2 separate regions of the Homo sapiens genome follow, and region 1 is linked to region 2. The links come from fine-mapping of genetic effects on gene expression. Tissue or cell type: monocytes after LPS. Region 2 holds a variant in brackets; the other region holds the start of a gene. All regions are shown on one strand. Distances are between the middles of the regions.

Region 1 (8,285 bases), 230 kb after region 2:
ACTGTAGCAATGTTTCTCAAAGGTGCAGATCCTGGGAGAAGGAGGGGTCCACAAAGACAAAAGTATTTTAATCATAATTTGAAGAGTATTTCACTGTGTTGAATTTTTTTTCTTTTGAGACAGTCTCACTCTGTTGCCCAGGCTGCAATACAGTGGCATGATCTTGGCTCACTGCAACCTCTGCCTCCTGGGTTCAAGCGATTCTCTTGCCTCAGCCTCCCCCAAGTAGCTGGGACCACAGTTATGTGCCACCATGCCCAGCTAATTTTTGTATTTTTAGTAGAGACAGGGTTTCACCATGTTGGCCAGGCTAGTCTCAAACTCCCGACCTCAGGTGATCGCCCACCTTGGCCTCTCAAAGTGCTGGGATTACAGGCGTGAGCCACCCCATCTGGCTGTGTTGACATTTGTACTTATGACACAAAGCAATGGTGGGTAAAACTGCTTGCAGTCTGAATCAAGGCAATGTTACCACAATGTACTAGAAACCTTCCCTCCTTCCTTCCTCCCTCCCTTCTTCCATCCCTCCCTTCTTTCCTCCTTCCTTTCTCTCTCCTCTCCCTCCCTTCTTTCCTTCCTTCCTTTCTCTCTCCTCTCTCCCCCCACCCCACCCCCTGCTCTCTCTCTCTCTAGACAAGGTCTTTTTGCCCAGGCTGGAGTGCAGTGGCACAGTCATGGCTCACTGTAGCCTCAACCTCCTAAGCTCAACTGATCCTGAGTGGCTGGGACTACAGGCACGAGCCACTATACCTGTCTAATTTTTTACTTTTTACAGAGATGGGGTCTCACTAAGTTGCCCAGGCTGGTCTTGACCTCCTGGGCTCAAGTGATCCCCACACCTCAGTCTCCTTAGCAGCTAGAACCACAGGTGCATGCTACCATGCCTGACTATTATTTATTTATTTATTTATTTTATTTATTTATTTAGTAGAGATGGAGTCTCACTATGTTGACGAAGCTGGTCTTGAATTTCTGGGCTGAAGAGATCCTCTTGTCTTGGCCTCCCAAAGCGGTGGGACTATAGGCGTGAGCCACTGAACCCAACCATCAGGACATTCTTAAATAAAAATAATTGTTTGTTTGTTTTAAATGTGAGTACATGGCAGTAAATAAAATAATAGACAAATTTTGGTTATTCAGTCTTGGGAATTTGGCAGAAATTTTCTCAAATATGAAATAAGTGAGTCTGTCACTTCAAGGAAACAGCTGACAATATTTGCTGCCAATGTTAAAATTCAAGCTGTCAAGTGAAAACAAGTTGAAAACTTGTTTCCATTACCTTGAGTTTGATAGTTTCCTAATACTTAAACTCCTTTTTAAAATGAAATAGGTGGTGATATTAACAAATGTGATTTTTTAAATACCGTATAATGGCATCTGAAAGGTCAACGTTTAGATTTGCATAACTCACTGAACCAACATTTTCTAAACGACCAATGGCTGATGTTATAAAACCATATATGGGTAAAGCAGCCAATGAAAGGGCAAGATAGACCAATGGATTTTAATGTAACACAGTATAAAAGTTCACCTATAAGGCTTCAGATGACACACTGTGACTAACATTTAAGAAACTGCCACTTGTGGCCTGGCATGGTTCTTCATGCCTGTAATCCCAGCACTTTGGGAGGCCAAGGCGGGCGGATCACCTGAGGTTGGCAGTTTGAGACCAGCCTGACCAACATAGAGAAACCCCATCTCTACTAAAAGTACAAAATTAGCTGAGCGTGGTGGCACATGCCTGTAATCCCAGCTACTTGGGAGGCTGAGGCAGGAGAATCGCTTGAACCCGGGAGGCGGAGGTTGCGGTGAGCCGAGATCAGGCCATTGCACTCCAGCCTGGGCAACGACGGCAAAACTCCCGTCTCAAAAAAAAAAAAAAAAAAAAAAAACTGCCACTTGCAGGCCAGGCATGGTGGCTCACGTCTGTAATCCCAGCACTTTGGGAAATGGAGGCAGGCTGATCACCTGAGGTCAGGAGTTTGCGACCAGCTGGCCAACATGGGGAAACCCCATGTCTACTAAAAATAAAAAAAATTAGCTGGGCATGGTGGTTCACACCTGTGATCCCAGCTACTCGGGAGGTTGAGGCAGGAGAATCGCTTGAACCCAGCAGGCAGAGGTTGCAGTGAGCTGAGATCGTGCCACTGCACTCCAGCCTGGGCGACAGTGAGACTTTTTCTCAAAAAAAAAAAAAAAAAGAAAAAAGAAACTGGCATTTGCTAAATTTTGTATAGTATGAAAGGAGAGTGTCTACAGTTATCTGAAAAGGCAATTAAAATGTTTCTCTCTGCTCCAATTATATATTTGTATGAGGCCAAATTTTCTTCATACACACCAGCCAAAACAGCATAACAAAAAACAGTTTGAATCCTGAAGCAGAAATGAGAGTAGTTTTTTCTATTTCTATTGAATAAACTTGAAAAAACATAAAATAATGCTACTCTTCCTATTAATTTTTTGGAGGCAAATGTAATTGTTTTCCATTAAAAATATTATTTATGTTCAGAAGTAATGGGTTTATTGTTGTTGGAGTTTTTTTGAGACAGGGTCTAGCTATGTTGCCCAGGCTGGTCTTGAACTCCTGAGCTCAAGCAATCCACCCACTTCAGCCTCCCAAACTGCTGGGATCACAGGTGTGAGGCACTGCACATGGCCAATTATTATTATGATTATTATGAGCCACTGCACCTGGCCAATTATTATTATTATTATTGGGTTTTTTTGAGACAGAGTCTCGCCCTGTTGCCCAGGCTGGAGTGCAGTGGCAAGATCTCGGCTTCAAATGATTCTCCTGCCTCAGCCTTCCAAGTAGCTGGGATTACAGACATGTGTCACCACGTCCGGCTAAGTTTTAGTAGAGACAAGGTTTCACCATGTTGGCCAGGCTGGTCTCGAACTCCTGACCTCAAGTGATCCACCTGCCTTGGCCTTCCAGAGTGCTAGGATTACAGGCACGAGTCCATGCCCGGCCCAATTTTTATTATTTTTAAAGGAACTAATTAATGGACATCTTAAGATTTTCCCAGTTTAAATCTTCGATATGGTAAATATCATAAATATAAATAAACAAAGCTCTTTGAGGTAAGAGCATACAGGGGTCCCAAGGCTTAAAAGGTTTGAGGACTGATGTTCTATAGCAACATTACATTGACCTTTCCAGAAGGCAAAATGGTAAAGCACATTTTATAGTACCTCTAAAGTACAAAGGGAAAAGATATATTTTAAGCATATGACAGAATGTTCAATTAAAAACATTTTCTCCACACTACATTCAGTGAATATAAAAAGAATGTGGATTCCCCAGGAACAAATTCCCGAGAAGTGAGGGACAGTGCTGTAATTAGAAAAATGATCTGGACTCTAGCCCAGACCCTACCAGTCTCTCTAGACTTTAGTCTTCCCATCTGCAAAGTGAGATATCAGAATAGCCTATTTTCCATTTGCTTCCAATTGTCAATACCATGACTCTAATCAGGGATCCCTAAATGGGGGCCCACAAGCTGTCTCTGGCCTTCAGAGTGACTGGCCAACCCTGTTTTTGAGAAGTACCCCAAGAGGACAATCAGCTGGTGCTTGGTGAGCAGCTTTCCTTTCAGGTGAGGAATTGATTTTCAGTTACAGCCTCAATCCGGCTCACTAGACTCTCCTCTGCAGACATCTGCATTTACAACCTCTGGAATAAAGGGACCCTCAAAACCGGTCCAAATCTCAAGCTCCATAATTCAGCTCCAGAGACAGGGTGTCTGGGTTTCTCACTCACTCTGCTACATGCTGGTTGTTTGACTTTGGGCAAGTTCCTTAACACCTCTGAGCCTCAGTTTCATCATCTGTAAAATGGAACAACGCTGAACTCAAAAGGCTGGTATGAAGCTTAGCGAGGTGTTGCCCAAGAGTACTTACAGAGTTCTTGGTACTGGAAAGCACTTTGTTAAAGGGAGCTATTATTATTAACGCCAAGGCACAGAAAGGGAGTATTTCCTAAACTCCCTTCACCCCCCACACCAATTCCCTTTCCCAGCACCTGACGATTGCACTCCCACGATCAAGCTTGTTTTCATATCAACTCCCAAATCCGACAGTTCCACATCCCAACATTCACAAGACCCTCCTCAGACCTCTACTTCTCCTTCCCCACCCTACATCCCTTCACTGAGCTCCCGGCCAGTACCGGTTTCCTTCACGACCACAGCCGAGCAGAATGGTCACAGCACTGACCACTCCCCCAGGCTCTCCTCCGCGTTCCAGACCACTAAGCCTCCCTATCCCTCATTTCGGAGACCCCCTTGGGTCAGGAAGTGGTGGTCCAGGGGTTCATGGCCTAGGATTCTGCCCAAAGCGCGGTCGGGAGGGATGGGAGAATAACAGCCCGACCTCCCGGAGGGGCCCACAGACACTCACCGTCCATCCCTAGAGGCGGCGGTTCCGGGAGCTCGAACCGGAAGCGGCCTCTACACTGTTTGCAGTTCCCCTGGTTACTGCGGGGCCCCGGACCAATGACGGTGGAGCTCCACTTACTGAGCCCGCCCCCGGGGAGTGACGTCATGCCGGCGCGCTGGAACTCCTCCTCCGAACCCTGGGTCTGACCCACCTCCCCGGGCCCCGGATCGTTGTGCGCAGGCGCGATGGACCAAGGCCCTTGGCGGTGCGTTGCGCATGCGCCCCGGGCGCCGCCGACTGAAGTAGCAATGGACGCGCTGGAGTCGTTGTTGGACGAAGTCGCTCTGGAGGGGCTCGATGGCCTGTGTCTGCCAGCGCTGTGGAGCCGGCTGGAGACGCGAGTGCCGCCCTTCCCGCTGCCTTTGGAACCCTGCACGCAGGAGTTTCTCTGGCGGGCCCTCGCCACGCACCCGGGCATCAGCTTCTATGAGGAGCCTCGGGAGCGACCCGACCTACAGCTCCAGGACCGGTCAGCGGGCGGCCTGGCCTGGCGGGCGGGCGGGCGGGCGCAGGGCCCGGGGGCTGATGGAGCTGGGGGCAGGGCGGGGGAATGGAGTGGGGCTGTGCAAGTACCGGAGGCCTGTTGATTGAGTTGGGGCACGGCGGTAAGGCTAATCTGGGGTCCCTCAGGCCTGGCAGGGCCCTGGAGTCCGATGGAGTTGGCGGGGGGAGGGGGAGAATCTAGTGATGTCCCGTTTTGTCCCTGTGTGTGTTTTGGGGTAATGGCGAACAGGATTGGGGATATTCTTCAGGCTTAAAAGAATGTTTCCTTTACATTGGAGGATAGGATTAGAGCAGGAAAGACACTTTAGAGCCAGACTGGAGACTCCTGAGATCAACAGACCCTCATGGTATATTCATTCGGTGCAGATAGCCTAGGGCAACTCGAGATCTGCGTATCAGGACAATTAGCGATAATGCTAAAAGCTGACATTTATCAGGGACTTCATGGGTGAGGTGCTGTTCTTTTTTTTCTTTTTTGAGATAGAGTCTCTCTCTGTGGCCCAGGCTGGAGTGCAGTGGCGCGATCTTGGCTCACTGCAACCTCCGTCCGCCTCCCAGGTTCAAGCGATTCTCGTGCCTCAGCCTCCTGAGTAACTGGGATTACAGGCATGTTCCACCACGCCCGGCTAATTTTTGCATTTTTAGTAGGTATGGGGTGTCATCATGTTGGCCAGGCTGGTCGCGAACTCCTGACCTCAGACAATCCGCACCTCTCGGCCTCCCAAAGTGCTGTGATTACAGGCGTGAGCCACGGCGCCCGGCCACATTGCTGTTCTAAGAATCTATTCTAGAAGCTTTAGGAGCTTAAACTCACTTGATCCTCACTTGATTAAACTCCGTTAAACAGGAGATTAAATTCACTTGATCCTCACCTATGAGGTAGGTGCTGTTATCGTCCTCATTTTACAGAGGAAGACACTGAGTCACAGAGAGGGATTATGTAACCTAAGGTTCTGGGGGCAATAAGTGACTAAGAATTGATTTGAACCCAGGCTATTTTCAGCGTCTGTGCTCTTAAGCCATATTGTGAGGGTCAGGGGAGGTTCCAAGAGGTAATAATGTCCAAGACAGGCCGGGTGCAGCAGCTCATGCCTGCAATCCCAGTACTTTGGGAGGCTGAGGTGGATGGGTCACAAGGTCGGCAGTTCAAGACCCGCCTGACCAACGTGGTGAAACCCTATCTCTACTAAAAATACAAAAATTAGCCTGGCGTGGTGGCGCATGCCTGTATCCCAGCTACTCAGGAGGCTGAGGCAGGAGAATCACTTGAACCTGGGAGACAGAGGTTTCAGTGAGCTGAGATTCAGCCATTGCACTCCAGCCTGGGTGACAGAGTGAGACTCTGTCTCAAAAATAAAATAAAATAATGTTCGAGACAAAACTTAAAGGTTGGATTTAGGCAGCCAGTTGGCAAAGAGGACTGTTGGACAGAGAACAGCAAATGTGAAGTAAGTGGCTGAAGTGTGGAATTGGAGGTAGGGAATGAGGAATAGCTAGGACTGTGCTAAGATCCTTAATACAACATGTTATTTAATTTTTACAGAAACCTTAGGAGATGGGTAATATTCTCCCCATTTTCCTGAAGAGAAAATCGAGGCCCTGAGGGGTCAAGTGGCATGCTAAAAGTCAACTAGCAAGGGAAGAACCCAGACTTTGAGGAAGGTCTGAGTTCAGATTCCAGCCAAATTGGACTGGAATCAAGTCTTTTAACCTACTTAAAGAGTTTATCAGCCTGTAATCCCAGCACTTTGAGAGGCAGAGGTGGGCGGATAACTTGAGGTCAGGAGTTCAAGACCAGTCCAGCCAACATGGTGAAACCCCATGTCTACTAAAAATACAAAAATTAGCTGGGCGTGGTGGTAGACGCCTGAAATCCCAGCTAGGTGGAGGCTGCAGTGAGCCGAGATTGTGCCACTGCACTCCAGCCTGGGTGACAGAGGGAGAATCCATCTCAAAAAAAAAGCTTATCCTTTATCAAAAGGACAGTGAGAAGTCACTGAAGAGAGGGTCAGACTAGGGGCAAAGAGTGAAGTTGAGAGATTTTTAGTAATCTAGTCATGGTCTGGCTTACCATGGTGGGCGTGGGGATGAAGAGCACAGGCAGTCAAGACATAGTAGGCTGCTGTTTGGGCACCTGAGCGAACCCTGATTCTCATCTCTGAGGCTGGGAACACGGAAGAACAGCGTGGGGGTTGAGTCTGGGGGAGGTGGGGACTTTGCTGAAGAGACATGTGACACATTTAGCTTCAGGTTCTTTTGAGTTGTCCAAGTGAAGAGTCTTAATTAGTAAACATCTGGCTTCGTGGGAGTGAAAGCAGGCCAGAGGGAGGGACTGAGCTAGACATCTGTGAGTCATTCCTAGCAGCTGGTAATTAAAGCAGCTGGCTAAGATCAGCCCTAAGAGAGAGTGTAGTGTGGTTGGAGGTCTTGAGATATAGCTCTGCAGTGCACCTACATTTCAAGGCTGGATGGAGGGTGAGGGACTTTCAAAAGAAGACTGAGGCGGTGTGGCTGGAGAGGTAGAGGACAGTCAGGTCAGAGTGGTGTTCTGGAAGTTTGGGAGGAGACAGGATCATTTAAGAACGGAGGGTTGGGCTGGGTGTGGTGAATCATGCCTGTAATCCCAGCACTTTGGGAGGCCGAGGCAGGTGGATCATTTGGCCAACATCGTGAAACCCTCTCTCTACTAAAAATACAAAAATTAGCTGGGTGTGGTGGCAGGTGCCTGTGATCCCAGCTACTAGGGAGGCTGAGGCAGGAGAATCGCTTGAACCCAGAAGGTAGAGGTTGCAGTGAGCCGAGATTGCGCCACTGCACTCCAGCCTGGGTGACAAGATCAAAACTCAAGTCTTAAAAAAAAGGAATGGAGGGTTAAATGGTGCAGATAACACAGAGGGGGCAAGGAAGGAAAGGGCTGAAACATGTACATAGGATTTAGCCGCAATTAGACTAGTGTAGGATATGAGTGAGATTTCAAAATAAAACTCGACAAGCAGCCAGGCAAGGTGGCTCACACCTGTAATCCTAGCACTTTGCAAGGCTGAAGTGGGCAGATTACTTGAGCCCGGTAGTTCAAGACCAATCTGGGCAACATAGTGAGGGGAAAAAAAATTATATATATATATATGTATGTATTTTTTTTTTTTTTCAAAAAAAAAAAAACTTGACAAGCTTGGCTAACTGCATGAAAGAAGCACAAATGAAAAATGTCTCCATGGTGTTGTAAGAGGCACATGGAAGAAAGCGGTAGTAAGAGGGGAAAGAAGGGACTTAATTGGAGCTGGGGAGAGGTAATCATATTTGGAATGGGAGGCATTTAATAGACAAGTGAAGACATTGGA
Region 2 (8,325 bases):
GGGGCATGGGGGTGGGCAGGGAGGAGGTCCAGGAACTGGGGGTCTGGGGGCCACCATTCCAGGATCCACACATGGTGAAGGGAAACCCCAGGGCCAAAGACCCAAGTGTTGTCACCCCCACCTCAACTCTCCAGGGGCCCTCTCAGGATTTGTGCATTGGCTAATAGCTTCCAAAGCTGTGTGTCCCAGGAAAGCTGCACAACCTCTCTGTGTCTCAGCTCCCTTATCTGTAAAGTGAGGATAATAATAGTGCCCACCCCAAAGGGTTGTGTTACGTGGATTAAACAAGTTAGAGCCAGGCATGTAATCACCACTCTCTATGGATGAGCTACTGTTGTCTGCTCATACGGCAGGACAATCTCATTGAGTAGTCAGGGCGAGATCATGACCCCATCTGCAGCTCAGTGAGGGCTTCTCTGTGTCACTCAGCTCCTGGAGGCAGCATGGACTCCCCATCTGACCCCAAATCCGGTGACTCGGACTATATTCTTAATAACATCTTTTATTAATTTTGCAAGAGGAAAAAAATAGAAATTTATTTTAGAGTTAAAGCTTGTACAGCCTTTTTTTCCCCTCCTAAATTGCACAGTACATACGATTATTATAAACATCAGCTGCGGTTCTGGGAGTGAGCTTGTGTCGTGTTAGTGCCATCTCCCTGACAAATCTGACCTGTACCCACATCTCAGCTGGGAAGGAGTAGCTGGGCCTCCCTTTAATGCAGCGGCACTGGTTTGGGTCACAAGAGCTGGTTTGATCAACCCCTGACTCCCCCTGGCGGGAGGTGCTCGTCACATCTGGGAGCTGAGCAGAGGTGCCGGGGGCTTGGAAGCTGGAGAAATGATGGATCTTTCTCCAGGAGAAACAATTCTTATCTTCACATCAGCCCCGTGCTCCAAATGAAAAGCGCGTTTGCATAGCTGCTCGAGCCCAGGCTGCTAAGCTCATGAAGTATTTGCCGGGGCTCTCGGTTGCATAGGAACGTACCTCGAGTACAGTACTGCGGCGGGCCGGGCTGGGCGCCAGAAAAACAACGGATTAATATTTGCAACGAGAAATTACCCACTACTGGGAAACCAATTAGGTCCCTGATCCGAGCTTGTTACATCGATGCATATAGATGCGTTCTGGGCTTCACTCGGCTGGGGGTGCAAGGCACATTTCCAACTCGCTGGGAAGTGGCTGAAGGGGGAGAAGGGGTGGGGGCCTGGGAAAGGAGCACCTCACTGCCTGCCTCCAAGGGCACAGGGGCAGAGACAGAAAGCAGCCACATCAGTGAGCACAGCCGTGATCAGACCAGGAGGGACATGTGGCAGAGAGTGCAGGGAGGGCCTGCTCAAGGGTGAGGGGAGATGGGGGATTGTCCTCAGTGTTCCCCAACACCTGCATCCAGAGGGCACTGGGGTGAGTTCTTCTGGCCCTCTGGGGTCTGGAGCTGCCAGCCTGCTGGCCACCCACCCACCCTTCCTGGCCCGGCAGCAGCACGCAGATGATACCCTGGCCTGCCAGAGTGGGCCCAGCTCTTGCCAAGGTGGATGGCGGGTGGCCCAGCTGACTTCCTTCCCTCTGCAGGATGCACACAGCCTTGGCCAATCCCTTATCAGGCCCGATGAGAGGAGAGAGGCCCCTATACCGGGATGAGAGAGGGTCTTGTGGACCCCTGTAACCAGGAAACTACCCCAACCTCTCAGCCAGCTCCACCAGTCCCCAAATGAGACAAGGATGCGCAGGGGATGGGGGGTGTTGGCCGCTGAAGCTCAGGTTTCTGAAGGCAGTCTCCCTGGGCAGTGCCCTGCTTACTGGAGTTGCGGGGTAGGGTCTGGTCTCCCACTGTCCTGCTCAGCCATTCTCTGGGCCCTCTGAGGCTGGATGGGATGCCTCCCCACCCCGTCATTGTCCTGTTCTGAGTCAGGGTCAGCCCAGGCCCTAGTGGTCATGGGCCCTGCTTTGCTGGGTCTCACAGCAGAGGCATGAAGGCGGGTGTCCTGGGCTCCCTGTGGCCAACCCAGAACTGCAGGGGATCTCTTTGCCCTGCAGCCACAGCCATCTGTCACTCTGGTAGTATCCAGGGCTGTCCTCCCGAGTCCCCTCTTCCCAGCGGGCTCCCCTCAACACTGTGGTTCGCTTCCAGCTCCTGGGACTGAGGGTGAGGGACGCAGGCACTGAGTGGGGCTGCTGACGGAGCCCACCATAGTGGGAGGACCAGCTCTCCCTCCTTCACCAGTCAGCAGCGCCGTCGTCTCGTCTCCTTCTCGCTGATGCAGGTTTTGGGACGTAAGGCTGTCATGACAGGGAACAGAGGGACCAGAGTTACTAAGTCTCAAACCCTGGAGGGGTGCCCCACACTCCCCAGTGAAATCCAGCAGCCTGGGTTGCCATTCAAGGCCCTTGGAAAAGTCCCTGCTCTCGGGGCGCCTGGCACGCTGGCCCCTTCCCTCCGCCTGGAGCAGGCTCTGCCACAACACCCCTCTCAGCCTTTGCCCAGGCTGCCTGGCACACTCCTCACATCCTTTAGGATCCAGCTCAAACATCACCTCCTCCGGGAAGCCCTCACCTTGGGCATCCTCTATTGGTTTCCCACGGCCCGGGGCAAACCCCTTTAACATGGTGCTCTGTCCCTGACTGCTTCCCCACTCTGTGCCCACGACACTTAGATTCAGGAAGCTCCACTGTGTTACAGGTGCCTGCAAGAAGATGGAAGCATGTTGCTCCCCTGGTTCCATCCTCTTCAGTCCCTCCCTAGGCCTTTGGGCAGGCTCCTGGGCAGAGGAGAGCGGTCTAGGGGCAGGCAGGGGTGAGGGTGGGGGTGCAAGGCCACCAGCTCCTTCTATATTCAGACCGAGCTCCCAAGGCACAATGCTCTGGGCAGAGAAACGCCACTGACCTGGGTCAACAACGCTCTGCTTCCGTTTCGCGTTGGTAATGATTTGGTTTTCATTCATCATCTGGACATCTTGATCCTCGGCCTGATTACTGAGGGTAGGAAGGAAACACAAGATTCGATCAGGCTCCTGGCCGTGTGTCCCAGCCATCCATCCTCCTTAGGGCTGGTGGGGAGGCCATGGGGCCGGCTGGGGCCCTACCTGATGGTGGTGTGTTTCTCCTGGTGGCGGATGTCCCTGTCCTCGGTGAAGAGGATGGTGTGGTAGGGCACGGTGGGCTCACATGTGGGCAGGATGCCCCCCACCAGGTGGCTCACCATGGCCAGGATCCCATTGTACACAAGCAGGTCGTCCACCAGGAGCTGCAGGGACACGGGGCAGGACTCA[T/C]GGGTCCCCCTCGTCCCTCCCACGTTGACCTTGGGCAGAACGCGTTACTGCTCTGAGCCAAGGCTTTCTCCTCGGGAAGACGGGGCTGTCAGGAACAAGCGCCTACTGTGTGCTGTGTCTGCCTTGTGATTTCAGATCTTCACAACCATTGGGAAAGGCAGGAGCTATCAGCATGCATTGCAGATGAGGAAATTGAGGCCCGAGGGGCTTTAATACCATTAGCACAAGTGGCAGAGCTGGAGGCAAACTTGGGTCTCTGGTATCCAGGGTCCCTGTTTTCCCCATCCCAGGGTCACCGCCCCAAACCAGTGGGATTCTAGAGGAAAAGACGAAAGAAAACCCACTTTCTATTTGCTCAGGGTGACACTGAAATCACTGCCAGCAGGTTCTGAATTCATGGTTGGGTGGGAAATTCGCCTGCATCTGACGACCAGGCATTTGTGTTGAGGGTTGCAACAGAGAGAAGTAAATCAAACTGCGACAAATGATAATTGCCGGCGGCCTAATTACCAACGAGCATAATTATCTCAAAAAACTCAGCTAATAAGTACTTACGCCAAACTCCTTCACCCCTCGATGGGGTGTTTTCGCATAATTCCACAGTTTGATCATTGACACGGTGGTAGGCAGATCGAAAATCACATAAACCCGGTTCACCTGTCAGAGAGCGGCACTAATTAAAACAGGCATGTTTGGAAACAGAGGCGCTTGGCTGGGCTGGGGGTGCCAGGCGTGGGCTGGGGTGAGCGGTGGTGCCCAAGGCAGCGCCTGCCACGTGGGCCAGCCTGGAGTTCCGCCCCCTTTCATCTCCTCGAAGCCCATCTTGAGTCAGGTCACGTGTGGCTGCATTTGCAACAAACCGCTGAGCTGGCTTTTGGAGGGCCTGTGTTCTTGGGCCTGTCGGAGCCCTCATTTAAATGCCAGTGGAGGATTGGGAACATCCTCGGCCCTCCCCCACGTCCCCTCAGGTCAGGCCCAGAAATAGTCTAGAGCCCCATGAGCTAAAGGGACAGTCCCCAACTCGGGTTGAGCACCAGCCATGGTGATCAGCATCTGACCCTGTCTGTCCTTTCCCCAAACCATCACTGAGAAGCAACGCCAAGGTGCTGCTGGACAATGTCCAGGGCGTGTCTGTGAACCTCCGCTGGGGGAGTAAAAAGGGGGCTGTCTAGATCGGGGCAGAATCCAGTGGGAAAAGTGGGACGGAGCAGCCTCAAACAGCCCTCCCTCTCCCCACCCCCAACCAAAGCTCTCAGATATTAGGGGAGGCCCTCCCTTGCAAGACAGAATCAAGAAATAAGCATTCCACACTGGCCACAGACTGCAGGCTCAGTCCTGCCCCAGGCCCTGGTCCCCAGCCTGTGACCATCCTCAGAATATGCCAAGAGGGAGTGCGGCTGCTCGGGTAGGGCCAGCCTCCTGGCTGGACCATGGAAACAATAAAGGTCAGGGTGAGGGTCTCCAAACTCAGTTGCCTGTGAGGCTCAAGCAGATACAGATGTTGGAGTCCAGCCGCGAGAGCAACAGCTGAAGTCGCCGCACCCCAAAAGGCCTTCCAGTGCTAGACAATGGAAAATACCCGCTGGCCGTCAGTGGGTGGCCTGAGTCTCAGGGAGGACAGAGCTCTGTTGCCCCCTCTGCAATGGGGCAGGGGAAGCTGAGGACGCTCAATAGGGGGGGTCTAATTTTAGGGTGGCCTTTGGAAAACTTCCGTCATAGAATTGCTGATGCTGTACCTTCCTGTGTTTTCAGAGAAAAAGGTGCCCCCGATCCCCCACTCAGTCCCATGGCATGGACAAGGGACACATCCCTAGTCATATGGCTGCCAAGAACCCGCTGTGCATCTCTACCAGGCACCTGGCCCTGGGCTGAGAGGCTGCAGGGGGGCTGACCACCCCGTCCATGCCCTCTCCCCTTCCTCTCCACCACAACCAACCACGTCTTCTCACCATGAGGCCTCAGAGCTAAAAGCTAAGCAGGACCCAGTGCAAGATTTGAGATCTGGGAAACTGAGTCAGTTGGTCGGAAGAGCTGACCAGGCCAATTTAGGGCCAGAAGGAGGGCAGGGCGGCCGTACTGGGGTCATCTACCTGGTGATGTAGGAAGGGGCAGAAACCGTGAGTGTGCGGAGAGCTGGGTGGGGAGGAAGAGGGCACAGTGGCTGCAAAGCCAGGCAGAGCAGAGAACCAGAGAGGGCTGCCTGCAGGGACCCAGGACGCCCAAGCCCTCAGGCAGTTGTGCTGGGGTTCCTGGCTTCAGATTCCCATGGGACCCCTTTCGCCCCAGGTGTCCACTTATAAAAGAGAAAGAACTGCTGGCCTGGAAGAGCTGACCCCATCAGGCAAGTTAGCAAAGACCTAAACCTTTCTGACAGCTCCCAAGCATCTTGGCTTGAGATTAACTTGACCTGGAAGAAAGACGTGTCACTGAGACCAGGGAAAGAAAGTCCCCCTGCCCGCCTGAGGGCCAGGAGCTGCGGTGGCCGCTGCCGGGAACCCACCAGGCCCGGCAGGATGGGAGCCAGCCACATGTGCCGGCCATCACTGGTGTCGTTCACTTGGTCGATGAGCTTGTCTGGGGTGCGGACGTCCCCGCCCACACCCTCCAGGGAGTTCACGCTGTCGGGGAAGGCCGCAATATCTGAGGAGACGTCTAAGTTGCCATAACCCAAATCTGTGTGCTCGGGGCTGCCAGCCACCCTCAGGCTGATGGCGTGGCTCGGGGGACTCTGGGGCTGGCAGGGCTGATGCTTTGGGCAGCCGCAGCAGTGACAGCTGAATTGGACGTGTCCTGGGGAAACGGGGAGTGCCGGGCCCAAGGGGAGCAGGTGTGTCTGGAGAGGTGGTCAGTTTCAAGTAGAGAGAGAAGGAAACCACACAGAAGGCCAGCTGAAAAAGAGACGTTGCAGGGAACTGCCAGAGCTGGGGACGTAAAATGTTGCTGCTGCTTGAGAGGGTGGAGGGCAAGCTCTGCGGAGGTTTTCTTTTGGAAGGGAATGGGGCGGTGGCTGGATTCTACCCTGGCATGTGAGTATCATGCCGAGCCTCTCTTCCTGGTCAGTGTGGAAGGACCTCGGAGCAGCTGGACCCAGCTAATGTGATCTGCAGAACCCAGCTTCTAGCTCTGCCTCTGCCATTATGACCTGTGAGGGCGTGGGCAAGTCACAGGTCAACCCTGGGCCTGTTTTCCCATCTGTAAAATGGGTATAAAAACCTCCAGCTCCCAGGATGGATGTGAGGATCTCAGAGTGCACCAGATGTGAGCACTTTGGTAAAATCAATGAAACTTTATAGCTTCGAGGAGTCGCTAATAATGATCTAAAACATCAAGAATCATTCATCCCAGCTGAGGAGGGTGGTGGCACCAGGGGAAGGCAGAAAAGGATCCAACTGGAAGCCAGGGACCCCAAACAGATGCAAGGCAGGCTTTGGGGTTCGACTTGCCCTGGTATTTCCCTAACTGTGGTGGGCCAGGGATCACAGATTCAAGATCCGAGGGGGCCAGGCAGGTTACATGAAAGAGGCAGGATAGCCTACTGCTTGGTCAAGAGCTGGTGTCTGGACACTCACTGGCTGTGTGACATTAGGCAAGTTACTCAATCTCTCTGTGTCTCAGGCTCCTCATCTGTAAAATGGGGATAACAGCAGCAATCACCTCACAAGATTGTTGTGAGGGCAGATGAGGTAGCACAGAGTGAGCCCTGAGAAAATATTAGCAGTGAGTTTCGGGGCCTGGTAGATAACAATGGGAGGAGTGGGGGGCTAAGGTAGACCAGAAGGATATGCTTGGGGAGAAATGGCAACAGATAACCAGGTCCAGCCATTGTCACTATGCATAATCAAGGGCCTGTGTTGCCAATTTCTCAGGGGAAACCAGAGATCAGGGTTTTCATGTGAAACCTCGTGATTTCTAAAAATATTAGCAACTCATTTTAAAATGCACTGGGCTAACAGTCTGCAAATTCTGGTGTGGGCATACTATGCACAAAGGGTTCCATACTTAAGAAATTCAGGACACACTGAGTTGAACACAGTGCAACAGGCTTCTCCCTGCAGACCTTGTCAGAGCCTTTGGAACTCCAAAGTATCTGTGGTTCTCCGAGAAGGGGGCGCTATAGTTGGCAGCCTCTCTCAATTCACTGGACCACAGGACTCTGGTTTGTGGAATTCCTGCTCCTGATGTCTTAGCAGGCAGGGCTGGGAGCTGCTCTCTGCTGCCCGTCCCCAAGGGTCAGCATCTGACTATAAGCAAAGCCCCCTGGGCTCTGGTTCCTAGAGGGCCATTTCCCTCTGCACACAAGGCTTCTGCCCCGTTCCCGACCCTCCCATGCTCCCTTCAGTCTGGGTGGAGCCCACTCCTGTCCTACAAAGGATACTGTTTTCCGACAAGGGGATTTTTTCTCCTCGCTCGTCATACAGCTCCAGGCCGGTGAGGCCGATGTAGTAGGGGTCGCCCCAGCTGGTGAGAAGCTGAAACTGGAAAATGACTGGGACACTTTATTAAGGAAAAGAAGGCTTAATTTTTTTTTTTCAGAATATAGTAAAACAATGGCAAAGATAAGAGGAATTGTTTTGGGTTTATGTTGATGAATGAGAGAAAAACATTTTTCTCTTATTGCAACTAGAGCCTATCAAAATATAGGTAGCATCACATTTTCTTAAATTGCATGTGTGTGCATGTGTGTGTGTGTGTGCATGTGAGTGTTCATGTGTGTGTATGCATGCATGTGTGCACGTGTGCGTGTGCCCGTGTGTGTGTGTATTAGGAATTCAAAGCCTTCCTCTAGGCCCCAGGAGACAGGACGGGAGGAGAGGGTGCTCTCCAGGGAGCAGGCAGGATGGGGAAACATCTGTGTCACAAACTGATTGTATGGTATTGAACAAAATGCTCCAGTTTCCCTGGTTGTGAAATGACAAGAACAGAGTACCTGCAACCTCCTCCATCCCTTTCAAGTAAACAGGAGGCTAAGAAGGGGACACATAAACCTCACAGCGCCAGGGGCCATGGGCCGGGGCAAGGAGACCACCATTGCTGCTGAAGTCCCACGTGCAGAGCT

The links. PIP is the estimated chance that this variant, and not a neighbour inherited with it, causes the effect.
Region 1: KATNIP starts here. The variant in region 2 is fine-mapped to the expression of KATNIP in monocytes after LPS (Fairfax 2014, PIP 0.95).

What each region holds. Positions count from the first base shown.
Region 1 is chr16:27,546,294-27,554,578 of GRCh38, reverse strand. It overlaps KATNIP (katanin interacting protein), which reads right to left and starts at 4,435. Exons shown (of 28, transcript NM_015202.5): 1 at 4,402-4,435. The coding sequence starts at 4,408. GTF3C1 (general transcription factor IIIC subunit 1) reads left to right here and starts at 4,666. Exons shown (of 37, transcript NM_001520.4): 1 at 4,666-4,909. The coding sequence starts at 4,689. RefSeq lists enhancers at 4,570-4,679, 4,690-4,769.
Region 2 is chr16:27,772,529-27,780,853 of GRCh38, reverse strand. It overlaps KATNIP (katanin interacting protein), which reads right to left. Exons shown (of 28, transcript NM_015202.5): 23 at 7,645-7,755; 24 at 5,770-5,909; 25 at 3,825-3,926; 26 at 3,084-3,244; 27 at 2,885-2,973; 28 at 510-2,280. The coding sequence ends at 2,225. Among named protein-coding and RNA genes, the nearest start is that of KATNIP, 230 kb to the right of the region's middle. RefSeq lists an enhancer at 5,879-6,379. The variant T/C (reference allele first, on the strand shown) is at 3,270.